2 separate regions of the Homo sapiens genome follow, and region 2 is linked to region 1. Evidence: fine-mapped expression QTL. A gene starts in region 1. The other region holds a variant in brackets. All regions are shown on one strand. Distances are from middle to middle.

Region 1 (5,375 bases):
TCTCCAAAGTATCGAAGTGTAATCAGACCGCACAAAGTATTATCAAAATATACAAAGATAATAAAATGAATTAGATTTTTAAAAACTATTTACTCATCATTCTGTGCCCTTTATAGGATGACCTATATAAGTCTATGTAGGATGTTCTTGAGCACACATTCATAAGATTCCTGTTGTCTTTCAAGCAAGTTACATTTTTCACTGTGAACTTGTTGGATTTTACGTTTAAACTAATAGCCTTTCTAAGGGAAGAAGATTTATCTACCATTTCCCTTACATCTTCCGCAGTGTCTAGGCTGGAACCAAAGTTGATGCTTTTTGACTTCTGTATGGCAACTACTCCTGTGACATATTTTGAAGTTCCTGGTACCCCCCAATCTGGCCCTGCACCCACACTGAGCCTCATGGCTAAGTTTTGATATCCAAGCAGTAAGATGGTCTAGTGGAATCCCCTAAAGCATGGGTCATGAGCCACCCACATCACACCCATCTGGTGTCTCTCAGCAGGTACAGGATTCTAGGTGCTTCCACAGATCTTCCCCACCCAGTGAAGCTGCATTAACCAGCTCCCCAGGAGAGTCTTGTGAACTCTAAAGTTTGATCATCATCCTAATGATAGCACTTTTCTGCTCCTGGAAATTTTAATGATGTTGCTTGTGAATATGGTTCCTGGGCCTGGTCTTTGAAAATGAAAATAAAAGATGGTGCTTGACTTTGGGGAAAAGAAGTGAGATGCAGACTACAAAAATGGCTCAAAACAACGCCCTCTCACAATTACTAGGAGAAAATGTTTACCCGTGTGCTGAGAAACAACACCCCCCATTTCTGTAAGGCAGTTGCCAAGCAGATGCCTGATTTCAGGGATCTCTGGAGCTGCACCCTCCAAGGCGCTGGCGCTTAGAAACGACATGAAGAGCCAGCCCTGCTGAGCAGGACCAGGGCGCCAAGTCTGAATGACTAATATTTTTCCAACCTAGAACGTCATTAACCGATTGATAACTATTTCCCCTTTAAACTAGGCAAAATCAGCATTCCTCTCCCCTCTGTGTGCCAGAATTCGAAGATGAACAAAAGACGCCTGCATCAGGAAAACTGTGTTAAGTTCTCTTGGATTCAGGGCTTCGACCCGAATTGGGCTGAGTGAATGAAGACGCTGGTGAGATGTCAGGGACCTGGGGAATGAAGACACACCCAGAAAAAGCAGGAACCTACAGGAGTGGACAAAGAACCGGAGCATAGGCATGTGAGAGGGGTTGAAATGAACAACAGACTCATACAAGAAGGATTTCTAATCAGAAAAGAGCGATTGCTTTAGTAAAGCTGCAACCTGGAACAATTACAATCTGACCAGATGTTCTTGCAAAACTGGTAAAGCAGAGAATGTGTAAAAATCTCTCCCCCTCCTCCCCTGAATGCAGTTGACGAAAGGCCGAAAGGCTGGATCCTCAAAGCCCAGATCTGATCACTGCAGATCCGGGCCACCCTAAAAGCAATCGGGTGTAATCTTTCCAGCTCCAGGCCCTGGGATGAGGGAGGTGGGGGAAGGTGGAGAAAGGTGGAGGAAGATGGAGGGAGGTGAGGGGAGGTGGAGGGAGGTGAGGGGAGGTGGAGGGAGATGAGCGGAGGTGGAGAGAGGTGGGTGGCGGCTCCAAGGTTTGAAAACACATCCAGGACACTTCCCATCCTCCAAGAGCACGCTGGCTCACAGGCTCTTTCACGCTTCTGCTTGGGACAATCGCGTGCATGAAATCTGGCAGGGAGGAGTCAAGGAGATTGTTAGCCCGAGGGCTGGGACGGTGGATCTGGGAATCAGGGGCCTGGGGGACACGTTCTCTTCCTGCCGCGGGCTTCCTGCTCCAGAGTCCCCGCGGGGCTTGGCGGCGGGGCCGGGGGCTGCACGCGACCATCCGGCAGGGGGCGGCGGCGACAGCGGCGGCCGCAAGGGACGCGTCCGGGGCCCGCGCTCAGGGGGAGCGGTAGCGGCTTGGCAGCTGCTCCCCGCGCCCCCGCGGCCTAGCCAGGGGAGGGGGCGCAGCGCCGGGGCCATGGATCCGCGTCAGGCCGCTGCTTCCCGCCGGCGGGCCCGGGGCGGGGCGGACCCGTCCCCGTCCCCGTCCCCGTCCCCGTCCCCGTCCCCATCCCCACGTCCCATCCCCCACGCAGCCTTCGCCCTCCCTGCTCCTTCCCGCGCCGTCTTCCCTTCCCGCGTTCCCCGGGAGAAACATGGCCGGGAGCAGCGAGGAGGCGCCAGACTACGGGCGAGGCGTCGTGGTAAATGCAAACTCCCTATTTTGGGGCTCGGCCCGCTCCCCTCCCTCCCTGGCACCCTGCTTGTAGATTAAATGCTTGCCGTGCGTCGGGGGAGAGAGAGGGCCACCGCTTTGTTCTCCCTCCCGGCGGGGATCGCTTCCATCCTCGGACCCGGGCCTCCTCTCCCCGCCCCCAATCTGACGAAACTCTGAGTCCCGTCCCTTCACCCCGAGTTCCCAGCGTCCCCCCGTGTCCTCCGGCCGGTAGCTCGCTCCTGCAGCGTCCCGCCGGCGCCCAGCCGTCCCCATCCCCGCGAGCCACGGGGAGTCGCTTCTGCGAGCCCGGCAGGGCCCCAGAGACCCCCGCGTGCTGCTCTGGAGGCCTCCTTCTTCCTGGGTCTCCTCTTGACTCCTCCAGGGCGGGCTTCAAGTTTTGTTTTTAAAAAGCACACTGAGGGGTTTTGAAGGCAGCTAGGAAATAAAGTAGCTCAAGTGGACAGAGCTTGAGATTTGAAGCCTTTGGTACCCAGGTTGGGGGCTCTCTGGCAGTGGAGGCCTCTGCAGGAGCTCTAGGACACGCTGGCGGCTCCTGAGTGACCTATGGCTTGTCTGTAAAAGGGAGCAACAGCAAGCTGGGCTCTGGAGCCAATTGGGAGGATGCATGTAAAATATCTAGCAGTGTGTCCGGATGGGAGGGTGTGGGGTGCTGGTTTCCCAGAACTGAGCCTCATTAACCCTGAGAATCCTGACGGTGTCAGCCAGAGGGTACCCATCTCTCAGTGTGCTAGGATCCAACCCGTTCTTGACCTTGTGGCCACGTCCTCCCTGCTCCCTGAGAAGTGGTTTTCCTAGAAGGTGGTGGTTATAACTTGTGTCAGGTTCAGTGTGAAACTCAATGGTGGTGAGGATGGTGGGTGGGGCTAACTTGCCATCTCTTTCCAGGGATCAGCTTGTCATTCACAGATAATCTGTTTATGAATATGAATGGCCTGAACTAAAGTAAGTGGGCTGGGGAGGGAAACGTGTCACATTCAGACAGAAGGGTCAGGTTGAAATGTGGGGCTCAGTGCTTAATTTAACAGCAGGACCTTTCCTTCTGAAAGGATGAGGAGTTGATTTATTCATTCCACACGTTTATTGTCCTGCTGGGTTGTAGGAGGTGCTGTAGGCTCTGGGGTGCAAAAGACAAAGGCCTTGTCTTCATGAGCTTGCGTTCTAGAGAAGACATAGGCAAGCAGTGTGTAAACAAATAGAGAAAATTTCAAATAGAGATATGTGCAATAGGAGGAGGGTAACAGGATAGAGGGTAATTGGAGGAGAAGGGGGGAGTGATGCTTTTGCTCAGGTGGTCAGGGCAGCCTCTCTGCGGTGACCTTTGAGCCAAGATCTGAAGGGTACACAGGAGTAGCCATGTGGACTGCAGGCAGAGACCCGCATACCAAATGCAAAAGAATCATTGTATCCGATTTATGCTTTTACAAAAACCATTCCAGTTGCCCCAGGAGGAGGGGCAAGCCTAGCGGTGTGATGGATGGGAGGGGGACTAAAACGCAAAAAGGGCAATCATTAAGTTCATTCTGGACAAATTGAGTTTGTAGTGCCTGTAAGGCCCACAGGTTGGCCTGCACTGTAGGCAATTTGAAATTCACATTTGGAATTCTGGAGAGTGATTGGAGAGATTTGGAAGTCATCAGCAAAAAGAATAATATGTAATGTTCGGGAGTGCTCAGTGAATATGGAAAAAACAATTAAAGCAACTGTTAAGGATGGAAGCCTGGAAAGTCCCAAATATAAGAGGCTGCCTGTGGGGGAGAAGCTGGTTGAAGGAACCGAGAAAGAACTTTGAAGGGTGGGAGGGCAGGCAGCATGGTGGGTGCCTTGGGAATAGAGCATTGTTGAGCAGGAGGGGCGGGGTCAAGAGGTCATCAGAAGTGTCAGATGTTACAGGGACAGCAAGTCGGATACCAAGATGGAAAACAGCCACTGTATTTAACAATTACAAAGCCATTAGTAGGGAGAATCTTTTAAACAACCACTGCATTGGTAGAATGGTTAAAATATAGTACAAGTTGAGCATCCCTAATCCAAAAATCCAAAATCCGAAATGCTCCAAAATCTGAAACTTTCTGAGCACCAACATGATGCTGAAAGGAGATGCTTACTGGAGCATTTTGGATTTCGGATTTTCAGATTAGGGATGCTCAACCAGGAAGTATAATGCAAATATTCCAAAATCCAAAGGAAAAAAAATCTGAAATTGGAAACGCATCTGATCCCAAGCATTTTGGATAAGGGGTACTCAACTTGTACTACCGTAACATACTACATACTTTTAGAAAAGAATAAGGTGAATCTAGATGCACGGATAGAGTAGGTAAATTGTTGAAGTCTAAAAAACAAGTGAGAGAACACTGTAAATAGCCCAGTCTATTGGTGTCAACAGAGGTCCTCTTGGAAGCAAGGTAATTTTTTGAAAGATGCAAAGAGGTAGTGAGAGGGGTATCAAGAGAGTAGAGGGCCAGGTGAGGTGGCTCATACCTGTAATCCCACCACTTTGGGAGGCCGAGGTGGGTGGATCTCCTGAGGTCAGGAGTTCAATAGAATCCTGACCAACATCGTAAAACCTTGCTGCTACTAAAAATACAAAATTAGCTTGGCATGGTAGTGCATGCCTGTAATCACAGCTACTTGGGAGGCAGAAGCAGGAGAATTGCTTGAATCCGGAAGGTGGAGGTTGCAGCAATCCAAGATTGCACCATTGCACTCCAGGCAACAAGAGTGAAACTCCTTCTTAAAAAAAAAAAAAAAAATAAATAAATAAATAAATAAATAAACAAAAAAAATGAGTATAAACTGGACCAGCTGCCAAGGGGCTTGGTGCTTGCATGAGAGCCCACAAAGGTGGGAAATAATCCACATATAATGGAGATAGTCCCTACATTTACATCCTTTTCTCCAGTAGAACTTGGAATAATTAGATTAACCTCAAGTTGGATATAAGCAGGCAACTTCAGAGCGAATCGAAGCTGCTGGTAGAAGGCAGCTCATGGCATGTAAGGCAGGAGGGAAGGGAGAGCTGGAGAGGATGAGTTTACTGGGAGAATAGAAAGCTCTCAAGGATGGGAT
Region 2 (5,375 bases), 57 kb after region 1:
GGCCTCAATGGCTGACTCACTCTATCAAAATGCTAACAGGGTTTCCTGCCATCAAAGGGTTTTGCCAAAACATCACATTGCCTCATTTTTTATCCTAAATACCACAACCTTCTTAATTCTGAGAGGAGGGGAAGAGAAGCCATCAGTGAACATCCTAAAAGAGGACAGCAGGTAGTAGGAGTACCTTTTTATTTTGTTTGGTTTTTGTTAAATTTAGACTTAGGGATAGGGATAGACTTAGAGATAGACTTAGGAATAGGAATGCCTTTTAACTGACTCCAAGGAGGGGACTTCTACTGGTTCAGAATGCTCTCCATCTGGGGGATGGTTCATTTATTTATTTATTTTTTTGAAACAGATTCTTGCTCTGTCAGGCTGGAGTATAGTGGCTTCATAATTGCTCACTGCAGCCTCAAACTCCTGGGCTCAAGCGATCCTCCCACCTCAGCCTCCTGAGTGGCAGGGACTACAGGCACATGCCACCATGCCCAGCAAATTTTTGTATTTTTTGTAGAGATGGGTTTTTGCCATGTTTCCCAGGCTAGTCTTGAACTCCTGGACTTAAGCAATTCTCCCACCTCAGTCTTCTGAGTAACTGGGACCACGGACTCGCACCACCACACCTGATTAATTTTTAAATTGTTTGTAGAAACAGGGTCTTGCTATGTTGTCCAGGCTGGTCTTAAACTCCTGGCCTTAAGGGATCCTCCCTCCTTGGCCTCCCAAAGTTCTAGGATTACAGGCGAAAGGTACACACGGCCTTTTCAACTTTTTAGAAGAACACGCTAAGTGGTATGCACTTTTGTTTGGTATTGGAAAGACCTTGAATTTCACAGAGGACATTTCAGGATTTTTCCAGAGTGTTTAGTGCTTGACCACCCAGTGCTCCTCACAACAGACCGAGTGACATACTTTCTGACTTTCCTCTGAAGTGCCTCCAAATAAGATGCATTTGCTTTCATCTTTTTCTCCCTTTCCATTAAGAAAAGACTAAAACTAGCATGGCACTGTCAGCAGTTGAGCTAGTGAACTCTGGGATTCTCATGAGGAGGCCCAGTGAAGAAATGGCCTTTCTTCCTAATTAAAGACTTGGGGAAGCACCCTCTAGAAGAGCAGTCCCCGACCTTTTTGTCACCGGGGACCAGTTTTGTGGAAGACAGCTTTTCCATGGACTAGGGAAGGGTTGGGGGATGGTTTCCAGATGAAACTCTTCCACCTCAGATCATCAGGCATTAGTTAGATTCTCGTAAGGAACATGCAACCTAGATCCCTCGCATGCACAGTTCGCCATAGGGTTGTGATCCTATGAGAATCTCATGCCCCCGCTGATCTGACAGGAGGCAGAGCTCAGGCAGTAATGCTGCCTCTCCTGCCACTCACCTCCTGCTGTGTGGCCCTGTTCCCAACGACCACAGACCAGTACCAATCCACAGCCTGGGGTTTGGGGACCCCTGTTCTAGAACACCTACTGTTGACTTCTGTGCCCTAGTTTCCCAGGACCAAAAGCCCTTCTCTGTACATGTGTGGTGGGAGCACCATGTGGCCAAAGAGTTAGCTGAGGCCAGAGATGTTTCACTGTGTCAGTGCAGTGAAAGAAAGAAGGGGGGGAACTAGTTTTATTTTGTTTTTAGATTAAATATGCGTTGACATAACTTCCAGGTGTCTGAAAATTATGTGAAAACATTTTTATATGGAAGGTCTGTACTCATATTATTGTTGTAATGGGTTAAAAATTGCATCAAGGGATATTGATTTCCATTTTTTAATCAGTCTCCCTCTCTAGATATATGGATAGAGAATGTGTGTATGCATGTGTATGTATTTACAGATATATATATATATATATATATATATATATATATATATATCCACCCCAGCTCTTGCCCTCCTAGGTTTTTAGGTTTTCTTTCTCTTCTGTTCCAGTGCTGTTCCTTTTCCCTAAGCAAGGCCGTTCATGCACCACCCCCCACATTCTCTAAGGCGTAGAAAACTACTAATAAAGTGAAGACTGGGCGTGGTGGCTCACACCTGTAATCTCAGCACTTTGGGAGGCCAAGGCAGGTGGATCACCTGAGGTCAGGAGTTCAAGACCAGCCTGAGCAACATGGAGAAACCCCATCTCTACTAAAAACACAAAACTAGCCAGGTGTGGTGGTGCATGCCTGTAACCTCAGCTACTCAGGAGGCTGAGGCAGGAGAATGTCTTGAACCCAGGGGGCAGAGGTTGCAGTGAGCCAAGATCATGCCATTGCACTCCAGCCTGGGCAACAAGAGCGACTCCATCTCAAAAAAAAAAAAAAAAAGAAAGTGGAGATTTCCAGAAGAAGGACAAATCCTACTCGGATATAAAAATAGAATGTTTTGCAGGATATAGCTTTCTAATTTAAATCTGGTACAAAGCACAACTTCCTCAGGCCTCAGTTTTCAGTTTATAACAAGACAAGGATTGCCTTTTCTCTAAGGTGGCATCCAGTTTTGTGATCTTAGGAGACATTGACTGGTACGACGTAGGCAAACCCCTCTCTGCTTCAAACCTGTCTGGGAAGCCAAGCCCAGGGTTTTCTTTCATGAACCACTCGGCTTCTCTGTCTCTCTTTGAGTTTAACCTGGTTTCCTTCTATCTCACCACCCACGGGTGGG[G/A]CCAGACAGTGGTGTGTGTCGCCACTACTTCCTGATGCCCACTCTGAGCCAGGCTGCATTTGGGGCTCAAAAGGGTTCATTTGCCCAAGGCATACACAATCCACAGGAGCGGAGCCTCGATTTGAACCCATGTTGTCAAACTCCAAAGCCACGATCTTAACCACTATCCTATGCTGTCTCCCAGGAGGAGGGTGGTTTTCAAACTTTTTTTCAGCACTGAAACATTTTAAGTGATGTCTTCCATAAAACCTCAAAAATGGAGCTGCCCTGGGGATCGCAGAGCAGGAACCTGGTTGTGAGCCACTTTGCCTCATCCACAAACCGAGATTGGCTCCCGGGTGCCTTCACAGAACTCTGAGCTGCATGAAGTGGAAAAAGAAACCACTCTTCTCCACTGACTACACATGACTGTGACAGACAAAACCCACCTTGCCTGTCCAGAGCCTGCTGGTGATGGTCAGTGGTCAGCATCCACAGAGGCCGAAGCCTAAGAGCATGACTCACAGCTCATGCAGCACTTCCCACGGCCAAAGGGCCAGCAGTGCCCTCCTATTTTCTTTTCTCTCTCTTTTTTTTTTTTTTTTTTTGAGATTGAGTCTAGCTCTGTCGCCAGTCTGGAGTTCAGCAGCATGATCTTGGCTCACTGCAACCTCTGGTTCCCAGGTTCAAGCGAGTCTCCTGCCTCAGTCTCCCGAGTAGCTGGGATTACAGGCACATGCTGCCACGCCCAGCTAATTTTTGTATTTTTTAGTAGAGACAGGGTTTCACCTTGTTGGCCAGGCTGGTCTCCATCTCCTGACCTCGTGGTCCCCCACCTCGGCCTCCCAAAGTGCTGGGATTACAGGCGTGAGCCACCGCGCCCGGCCAATGAAGTCCTATTTTCACACTTCCTTTGAGGACTACAGTAATGTTATCAGGAGACAAGCAGTTTCTGCACCTCCTCTGCCTTGACCCAAGTACATTCCAATAGACGTCATGAGGTGACAAACTGTGGGTGCCCATGTTGAGCACTGCTACCGCCAGCATTGCCAAGTTGATTTGTATGGATTTGTGTCATTTCCCTGAAGTTCAACATAATGCTCAAACAGGAGGGCTCTGCTGTGGGGCAGGCCTGGGTTCACATTCAGGCTCTGCCAATTACTGAGTGAGCTTGGACCAACGATTTAATTAAGATTCCATTTTCTCATCTAGAAAATGAGATCAAGTAAGTACGACCCTGCACAGTATCCATCACTATAAAGGTTAGACTAGCTATTATTATTACTATTATAAGCTAATGAAACATATTCTTCTAGTTACAAGAAAATGAAGCTGGGCACAGTGGCCCTCCTGTTGTTGCAGCACTGTAGGAGGCTAAGGCAGGAGGATCACTTGAGGCCAGGAGTTTGAGACCAGCCTGGGCAACCTATTGAGACCTGTCTCTACAAAACAAACCAACAAACAAAACAAAACAAAAAAACACTAACTGGTTGTGGTGGCACTCGCCTGTAGTCCCAGCTACTTGGGAGGCCTAAACAGAAGGATTGCTTGAGTGCAGGAGCTCAAGGCTGCAATGTGCTATGATTGCGTCACTGCACTCCTGCCCAGGCAACAGAACAAGACCCTGCCAAGAGAAAGAAAGAGAGAAAGAGAGAGAGAGAGAGAAAGAGAGAGAGAGAGAACAAAAGAATCAGTGTTTTCAGAAACTTTCTGACTATACATGCCTATCTAATTATTAAGAGATGGACTCATGAAAATTTTTTCAAGTTTGGATACCTTCCTCTTAAATTGTGTTTGAATTTCAAGTGAGTTTTCATTCTCAAATATATAACATTATGTAACATAGGATGTGCTACTTCTATTTTTCTTTCAGTCAGGTGTGCTATTACAAAGACTGATACTGTATGAGCAAAATTTGGGTGGATTGTCTTATCTACGGATAGCTAGATCCCAGGGTTTTAAGAGATCTTAGAAACTCTTTCTCCCCATACTCCTCAGCCAAATATAAACTGGAGTGATAAAAATCAAACATTTTATGTGGCGGGTTTAAAAATCACTCGTGTATCCTTAATATGTACCCATGCTTGCCAGTGGTACCAACACTGGCTTTTAGGTCTTTAATGCCCCAGAAATAAGAATCTAAAATGCCAGTTTTCTACTGAAGAATACTGACTTCATTGCCACTTGCCTTGTGAAATACCCCAGTCTCTTTCTGCTTGTGGACCAGTGGATTTATCATACGCACAATTTGTTACTAAATTTGAATTGTTGAGTTAGGAGTGCTTGAGAAATATGTGACTGCAGACCAGGACTGTGTCACCTACTTGGCCTCGGTGTCATTTTCCCGTAAGAATCAGGAAAAGATTATTTTTTCTGTTTCTATGAAGAATGTCACTCGTATACGAATGGTCAATAGGTACATGAAAAAATGCCCAATGTCATCAATCTTCAGGGAAATGCAAATCAAAACCAGATGGGATACCACTTCACACCCGCTAGAAGGGCTATTATGAAAAAGACAAAAAAAAAATCACAAATGCTGATGAGGATGGAGAGAAGGGAGACCCTTATACACTGTTTTTGGGAATGTAGCATAGCTACTATGGCGAACAGTATGGGGGTTCCTCAAAAAATTAAAAATACAACTACTAGGTCAGTTGCAATGGCTCATGCCTATAATCCCAGGACTTTGGGAGGCCAAAGTGGGTGGATTGCTTGAGCCCAGGAGTTCAAGATCAGCCTGGGCAACATAATGA

Evidence for each region. PIP is the estimated chance that this variant, and not a neighbour inherited with it, causes the effect.
Region 2: its variant is the best candidate, but not a certain one, in a credible set for the expression of PRTFDC1 in whole blood (TOPMed, PIP 0.73).

What each region holds. Positions count from the first base shown.
Region 1 is chr10:24,949,424-24,954,798 of GRCh38, reverse strand. PRTFDC1 (phosphoribosyl transferase domain containing 1) reads left to right here and starts at 2,193. Exons shown (of 9, transcript NM_020200.7): 1 at 2,193-2,271. The coding sequence starts at 2,224. It also overlaps a transcript of THNSL1 not described here. RefSeq lists a silencer at 1,843-2,032.
Region 2 is chr10:24,892,182-24,897,556 of GRCh38, reverse strand. The region is part of intron 3 of PRTFDC1 (phosphoribosyl transferase domain containing 1); the gene reads left to right. Among named protein-coding and RNA genes, the nearest start is that of PRTFDC1, 58 kb to the left of the region's middle. The variant G/A (reference allele first, on the strand shown) is at 2,641.